Homo sapiens: one gene and its partner. The protein of the gene in region 2 purifies or fractionates together with the protein of the main gene of each other region. This does not show direct contact. Each region holds a gene or a part of one and is shown on either strand. Other genes may lie near its edges.

Region 1 (3,822 bases), on a different chromosome or scaffold from region 2:
GGCATCACCTCCATTTCTACACCAATGTCTCAGTGCTTTGCTTTCTTTCTTTTTTTTTTTTGAAGACAGAGTCTTACTCTGTTGCCCAGGCTGGAGTGCAGTGGCGCGATCTTGGCTCACTGCAGCCTCTGCCTCCCGGATTCAAGTGATCCTCGTGCCTCAGCCTTCCAAGTAGCTGGGATTACAGGTGCGTGCTATCATGCCCGGCTAATGCATTTGAGTTTTGACTCTTCATGTCCTGGTATTCAAATTTGCCAGGCAATGCATTTTAAAGTAAGGATTTGAATTAAATACTGAAGACCCTCTGAAGTTACATTAAAAATGTTAGCCTTCAGATCAGACAGTATTCTTAGGTATGTTGCTTCTAACTGTTTGGAATCAAAATATACCCCTCCACCCAAAATCTGACTCCTTTCAGATATCTCAGGATAACCTGACAATTCAGTTTTTGTTTTCCACTAAAAAGCTCAATGCTGCTGTGTGTTCTTTAGGTTCATATGGAGTCTTGAGTCAAATCAAACACTCCCCCAAAACATGCAATAAAAGCAGGTTTTCCTGTTGGACACTTCTATCAAAAGTTATATAATGTCTATACCAGTGTTGTCCAATAGAAGGTTCTGTGATAATGAAAATGTTGTATATCTGCATTATCCAATATGGTAGCTACTAGCTACATGTGCCTAGTAGAAGCGATGAACTGAATTTTATTTCATTTTAATTAACTTACATTTAACCACACATGGCTACAGTCTACCATATCTGACAGCACAGGTCTACACTGAGGTTCAGGTGCTCAGAGACAGTGAACAAAAGCAAGATTATTTGTCACTCTTCTTGTTGACACGCTCTCAGCAAGCTAGTTGGACCATGTGAGGCCAGGAAGGTGGGCAAACAAGGATAGCATCACCAAGCATTTCTTTGTGAACTAATTCCGCCACGGCCAAGACAATGTCCCACCATCCTTTGTGGAATAAGCATCTAAGAAGAAAATTTGCTTTCATTTGCAAAGATGCTGAAGAGAAAATGTTTTATCCACTGGCTGAATGAAAAGACTCTGGCTTGTAAATAACAAGGGTTTCATTTAGCAATTCTTTCAATTCTTCATCACATAAATATTAAGGGCCAACTGTGTGCCAGGCAAATTCTATGTACTGAGAATACAGCAGCAAACAAGGTAGACAAAATACTGGGTGTCATGGAGCTCACATTCTAGTAGACGAGTCAAAATTACTTCAGATAATAATAAATGCTATGAAGGAAACAAAATAGGGTAGTATAAAGGCTCTGTAACTCCAAAGTAATGTTTATACTAAACCAAGAAGATTAAAAAAAAAATCAGGAATTTGCAAGCATGAAACTTCTATCTTTAAAAATATTCACTGGAGGGAATGTATAGGGGTCAAGGTAGAATAAATGTGGTTTTGGGGAAAGAATATTTGTTAAGCTGGGAAGAGCTAAGTCTGCCTGGGGTGATCCTTAGACTCAAATAAGGTATTTCAATGAGCAAGGCAGGAGGTAGAAACAAGAATAGATTAAAATTACACAACAGACTTCTACTTGCAGAGGTTCCAGATAGTTTGAATTAGGTTTGCATTTACATTCACACTTGGGTGGCAGGAGTATGAAATGTGTGAATCAAAGACCTCGAGTCACAGAAATAAATATGTCACCTAATAAATCACTTATTTAGCAGGGGGATAAAATGTAATAAATAATAGGAAATCCCGGAGTTGTATTTAGCAGACTAAATATTGTGATCAATCTGTGCATTTATTTTATATGCTGCTTTAATGACTATGATCTGGTTCTTTGTTTTGTTTTATTTTGTTTTGTTTTGAGATGGAGTCTCGCTCCGTTGCCCAGGCTGGAGTGCAGTGGCGCGATCTTACCATAACCTCTGCCTACCGGGTTCAGGTGATTCTCCTGAATCAGCCTCCTGAGTAGCTGGGATTACAGGTATGCGCCACCATGCCCAGCTAATATTTTTGTAATTCTATGCATTCATTTTAAAGTTATTGCTGGCAAAAACAGTATTTCAAAATGCATCTGGTGTGCACGTGTTTATAAACCATACTTCATTATCACTGCAACTGTAAAACTGTAAACTGTTATATTTCAAAATTCTTCCAGATTTCTAGTCAGAAGAGATATCAATCAATCTCATAAATAAACCAGACGTATATTTCCAATGACCTCAAAAGATGCCCAAACTCCATAGGTACACAGTAAACCTTATCACAACACTATTCATTGAGATAGAGCTGAACTGTCCATTTTGGGGCCCTCTCTAAGGGAGCTACAATTATATTACCATTTTGACTGTTTAAATGCACAAAAGGGTCAGGAATGGGCACTAATTTACAACTAGATTATTGGTAAAAACGGAATTTTACGTTATGAACATTTTTCTCTGTATAACTTGCTATCTGTATAACCTGCTTTCTGTATAACTTGCTATCACTAATTTCAGAACCAGGGAGAGAATAAAGAGTTGTTTCTCCACAACAATAAAGTCAGTCTACACCAGTAGACAGAGATAAGAATACAGGCAGAATGTAACACAAGGTACTTTGATGACAATATTCCTCAGAACTCCTTGTTCTTTGCTTCTCCTTTATTCACTTTTTTGAGGGGAGGAAGGACAGTTCCATTAACTTTTTTTAAAATCACTTAAAAAAGTTGATACATAACAGATGTACTTATTCACTTTTACTTGCTGTTCTTGGAATTTTCCACGGACATTAAATATTATAACTTTTAGTACCAAACTGAAGTTTGCATTTACAATTGTGAAGCTGGTACTCCCCACCAAAATCAGGCCATACTTGTTGGCTTGCACTGAAAATCCACAAGCAGTTCCCATAAATCTTTTGATGATGATATTTTTCAATGGTTTCCCATACCAAGTAGCTGCTGCTTGGGGCGCAGTATGGTTATTAAACAGTCTTATCTGTGATACACTTTAAAACAATACTGGGCTAAACAAAGGGAAGGGAAATCAAAAGACTTAAGTAGCTTCTTGGCTCCATCTTCCTTTACTACTCGCTGCACAAACACGTAGGAGGTGACAAGACAAAGATGAGGCGAGGCAAGCTCCAGGCTCCCTTGAGAGAAAAAAAGCCTATCAGCATTTCTATCAGTAAGCACACCACTTCCTACCTCAAAATCCATAGGATGAAACATATTCTTGATGATGACAACTCGCTCATGGCGCATCCGGGATGGTCCGGCTCGCCTCTCAGGTCTCCAATCCAACTGCCTGAGGCAATGAAGCAGTAACAACAAACTGTAAATTTTGCTTCAGACTTGTTGGAGAGAGAAAAGAATGAGTTGTTCATACAATACTTTACTGAGTATTTAATAAAGATAATTACTGGATTTTACAACAACAAACTGTATTTCAGTCATAGTTCCAGTCAGAAAACTTTCTGAAATAAAAATAATGGGCAGGGGGCCGTGTGCGGTGGCTCATACCTATAATCCCAGCACTTTGGGAGGCCGAGGCGGGCGGATCACTTGAGGCCAGGAGTTCAAGACCAGCCTGGCCAACATGGTGAAACCCCATCTCTACTAAAAATACAAAAATCAGCCAGGCGTGGTGGTGCACGTCTGTAATCCCAGCTACTGGGGAGGCTGAGGCATGAGTATAGCTTGAACCCCGGAGGTACAGGTTGCAGTGAGCCAACATTGCACCCCTGCACTCCAGCCTGTGTGACAGAGTGAGACTCTTGCCTCAAATAAATAAAATAAAATAAAATAAAAGGCAGAGGCAAAATGATCCCAGTATCTGAAATCCCCAGATGAAATGTTTTTCAGGGCAAC
Region 2 (3,822 bases):
GAGGCGGAGGTTGCAGTGAGCCAAGATCGCGCCACTGCCCTCCAGCCTGGGCAACAAGAGTGAAACTCCATCTCAAAAAAAGAGAAGAAAAGAAAACAGCCTGGCCAACATGGTGAAACCTTGAAAGAAAACAGCCTGGCCAACATGGTGAAACCCTGTCTCTAAAAAAAAAGTTTATAAATCAGCTGGGCACAGTGGTGCACGCTTGTGGTCTGAGCTCCTCAGAAAAGGGGAGGATCACTCTAGCCCGGGAGGTTGAGGCTGCAGTGAGCCATGCACTGCAGTCCAGCCTGGGTGACAGAACAAGACCCTGTCTTTACAAGAAATTTTTTTGAGAAAAGGATTTCTTTGAGAAAGCCACTATCGAGCTTACAGAGAAAGTTGTGCTGGAGGCCTGGCCTTTCATCTTTGATGTCTAGTTGACCCCCACTATTTTCCATGACAGCAGCTGAAGGTCAACTCTTAGGAGCTCAAGTAGCTGCTGTTACCTGGGAAGGTAATTGATGCGTTGAATTCCCAGCGTTGCTTCACCCGGTTGTCTTTCTCCTCACAGCCTTGAGGGCGTCGTTAACAAGGTGTGTGTCCTTGGTTCTGTCAGCTTCAACAAGAGAAGAATTATTAATTCATATTTTCAATTATTTTTCCACAGAAAAGATTCAAGTTCAGCTGTGCTTCAAGACGTGTTCTCCTGAAAGCCAGCAGATTTATGGGTAATTGTATTTGTTATCTAATGGTGCATGACCAATTACAACAAAACGTAGTGGGCTTAAAACAACAAATATTTGCTGTCTCAGCTTTTGTGGGTCAACATTATGGGAGTGGTTGGGCTGGGTGGTTCTGACTCCTGAGGTTGAAGAGAATTTGTCAGCCAGGGTGGCAGTCATCTGAAGGCCCAAGTGAGGCTGGAGGCCCTGCTCCTCACCATAGGGACCCCTCCTTGGGCCCACTTGAGCATCCTTCACATGACAGCCATGGGACAGAGAGAGAACAAGAGGGAAGCTGCCAGCAGCAGAATTCAGGTTCTTCTCAACCACAGCCAGGCCATAAAGCAAGAGTCCATTATTTTATTTTTTGAGATGGAGTCTGTGTGTGGCCCAGGCTGGAGTACAGCGGCATGATCTCAGCTCACTGCAAACTCTACCTTCCGGGTTCAAGCAATTCTCCTGTCTCAGCCCCCTGAGTAGCTGGGATTACAGGCATGTACCACCACACCGAGCTGATTTTTGTATTTGCAGTAGAGATAGGGTTTTATCATGGTGGCCAGGCTGAGTCTCAAACTTCTGACCTCAAATGATCCTCCTGTCTCGGGTCTCCCGAGTGCTGGGATTACAGGCAAGAGCCACTGTGCCCAGCCTTGTTATTGGTTTGTAATTACATCCCACTATGGTCAAAGAACATACTTTGTATCATTTCAGTCCTTTCACGGCTGGATACAGTGGCTCATACCTGTAATTCCAGCACTTTGGGAGGCCAAGGCAGGCAGATCATTTGTAATTCCAGCACTTTGGGAGGCCAAGGCAGGCAGATCATTTGAGGTCAGGAGTTCGAGACCAGCCTGGCCAACATGGTGAAACCCCATCTCTACTAAAAATACAAAAATTAGTCAGGCATGGTGGTACATGCATGTAATCCAAGCTATTCGGGAGGCAGAGGTTGCAGTGAGCCAAGATTGTGCCACTGCACTCCAGCCTAGGTGACAAACAAAAACCAAATCAAAAACAGAGAAATTTGGGAAACTCAGAAATACGTAGAAATTAAAGAACACACTTATAAGAAACCAGTGAGTCAGACTGGGCATGGTGGCTCACGCCTGTAATCTCAACACTCTGGGAGGCAGAGGCAGGAGGATCACTTGAGCCCAGGAGTTTGAAACCAGTTGGGGCAACAGAGCATGACCCTGTGTGTAATTTAAAACAAACAAAACAATGAGCCAAAGAAGATAATTATAAAATACTTTGAAATAAAACTTATGGGATGCACTGAAAGCCGTGCTTAGAGGGAAATCTATAGCTAAAAACACTTCTATTAAAAAGGAAGAAGCCTGGGCAACATGGTGAGACCTCGTCTCTGCCAAAAACTCAGCCAGTCATGGTAGCATGTGCTGGTAGTATCGCTTGAACCTGGGAGATTGAGGCTGCAGTGAAGCATGATTGTACCACTGCACTCCAGCCTGGGAGACAGAGCAAGATCCCATCTCTAAATGAATAAACAGGGCCAAGCATGGTGGCTCACACCTGTAATCCTAGCATTTTGGGTGGCTAGGGTGGGAGGATCGCTTGAGCCCAGGAGTTCCATACTAGCATGGGCAAGACCTCATCTCCACAAAAAATAGAAAAACTAAAAAAAAAAGAACTAAAAGTCTGGGCGTGGTGGCTCACACCTGTAATCCCAGCACACTGGGAGACCGAGGGAGGTAGATCACGAGACCACGGGTTCAAGACCAGCCTGACCAACATGGTGAAACCCCATCTCTACTAAAGATAGAAAAATTAGCCAGGCGTGGTGGTGGGAGCCTGTAGCAGGAGAATTGCTTGAACCCAGGAGGTGGAGGTTGCAGTGAGTCGAGATTGCGCCACTGCACTCCAGCCTGGGCGACAGAGCAAGACTCATCTCAAAAAAAAAAAAAAAAAAAAAAAAAAAACTGAAGCAGAAGGAAGGAAATAAATAATAAATGAAACCAAAAGTTGGTTCTGTATAAGGATCAATAAAATTGACAAATATTTAGCTCTATCTACAGATCAAAAAAATTGAAAAGCAAGAATACTGAAAATACTAAAATCAGGAATAAAGATGAGACCTTACTATGGACCTCATTCTGGCAGAGTCTCATTCTGACACCCAGGCTGGAGTGCAGTGGTGCCATCTCAGCTCACTTGAACCTCACCCTCCTGAGTAGCTGGGACTACATGCACGCACCACCACGCCTGGCTAATTTTTCTATTTTTAGTAGAAACGGGGTTTTCCCATGTTGTCCAGGCTGGTCTCCAACTCCTGGGCTCAATCAGTCCACCTGCCTTGGCCTCCCAAAGTGCTGGCATTACAAGCATGAGCCGCAATGCTTGGCCCCAGCTCATTCTCTAAGACCAGTATCACCCTGATATCAAAACCAAGCAAAGGAATCACAAAGAGAAAACTACAGACCAGTATTTCTTAGGAACGTAGAATACCAGCAAACAGAATCCAGCAACATAAAAAAGGATTATATACCATGACCAAGTAAGATTTATCCCAGGAATGCATCAACATGCAAAACCAATTAATGTAACACAGCAGGCCTGAGACTGCTGCCCTAAGAACAGCCTGTGTGCAAGGTTCACCCTTGGCTGGCATCTGGGAACTTTTTTTTTTTTTTTTTTTTTTTTGAGACGGAGTCTCACTCTGTCGCCCAGGCTGGAGTGCAGTGGTGTGATCTTGGCTCACTGCAAGATCACTGTGAGTGATCCCAGGTAGCTGGGATTAGAAGTGCGCACCACCACGCTCAGCTAATTTTTGTATTTTTAGTGGAGACGGGGTTTCGCTATGTTGGCTAGGCTGGTCACGAACTCCCGACCTCAAGTGATCCACCCGCCTCGGACTCCTAAAGTGCTGGGATTACAGGCATGAGCCACCACGCCCAGCTGGCATCTGGGAACTTGACTGGTAAAGAGCTCCTATGTGGATACAATACTATCCCCAAATAACAACTGCTCACTCTTTTCTATACAAATCATGTGATATTTGCTGAACACTTGCTTTTCTTCTGAGCCTGGCATTTCGGTGACCATATTCAGTCACGCAGGCACAACGTACCTACATGAGCAACCCCCAGTGAAAACCCTGGAC

The links.
Region 1: the proteins of FLYWCH1 (region 2) and HTATSF1 purify together in Homo sapiens (affinity purification with mass spectrometry; one large-scale study listed by BioGRID and IntAct). This does not show direct contact.

Annotation. Positions count from the first base shown.
Region 1 is NC_000023.11:136,503,801-136,507,622, reverse strand, and holds part of HTATSF1 (17S U2 SnRNP complex component HTATSF1), read right to left. Parts: intron 3,260-3,822; coding exon 3,160-3,259; intron 1-3,159. UniProt on the Homo sapiens protein: Component of the 17S U2 SnRNP complex of the spliceosome, a large ribonucleoprotein complex that removes introns from transcribed pre-mRNAs.
Region 2 is NC_000016.10:2,939,383-2,943,204, forward strand, and holds part of FLYWCH1 (FLYWCH-type zinc finger-containing protein 1), read left to right. Parts: exon of another isoform or gene 1-598; intron 599-649; coding exon 650-710; coding exon of another isoform or gene 711-714; exon of another isoform or gene 715-779; intron 780-3,822. UniProt on the Homo sapiens protein: Transcription cofactor. Negatively regulates transcription activation by catenin beta-1 CTNNB1, perhaps acting by competing with TCF4 for CTNNB1 binding. May play a role in DNA-damage response signaling.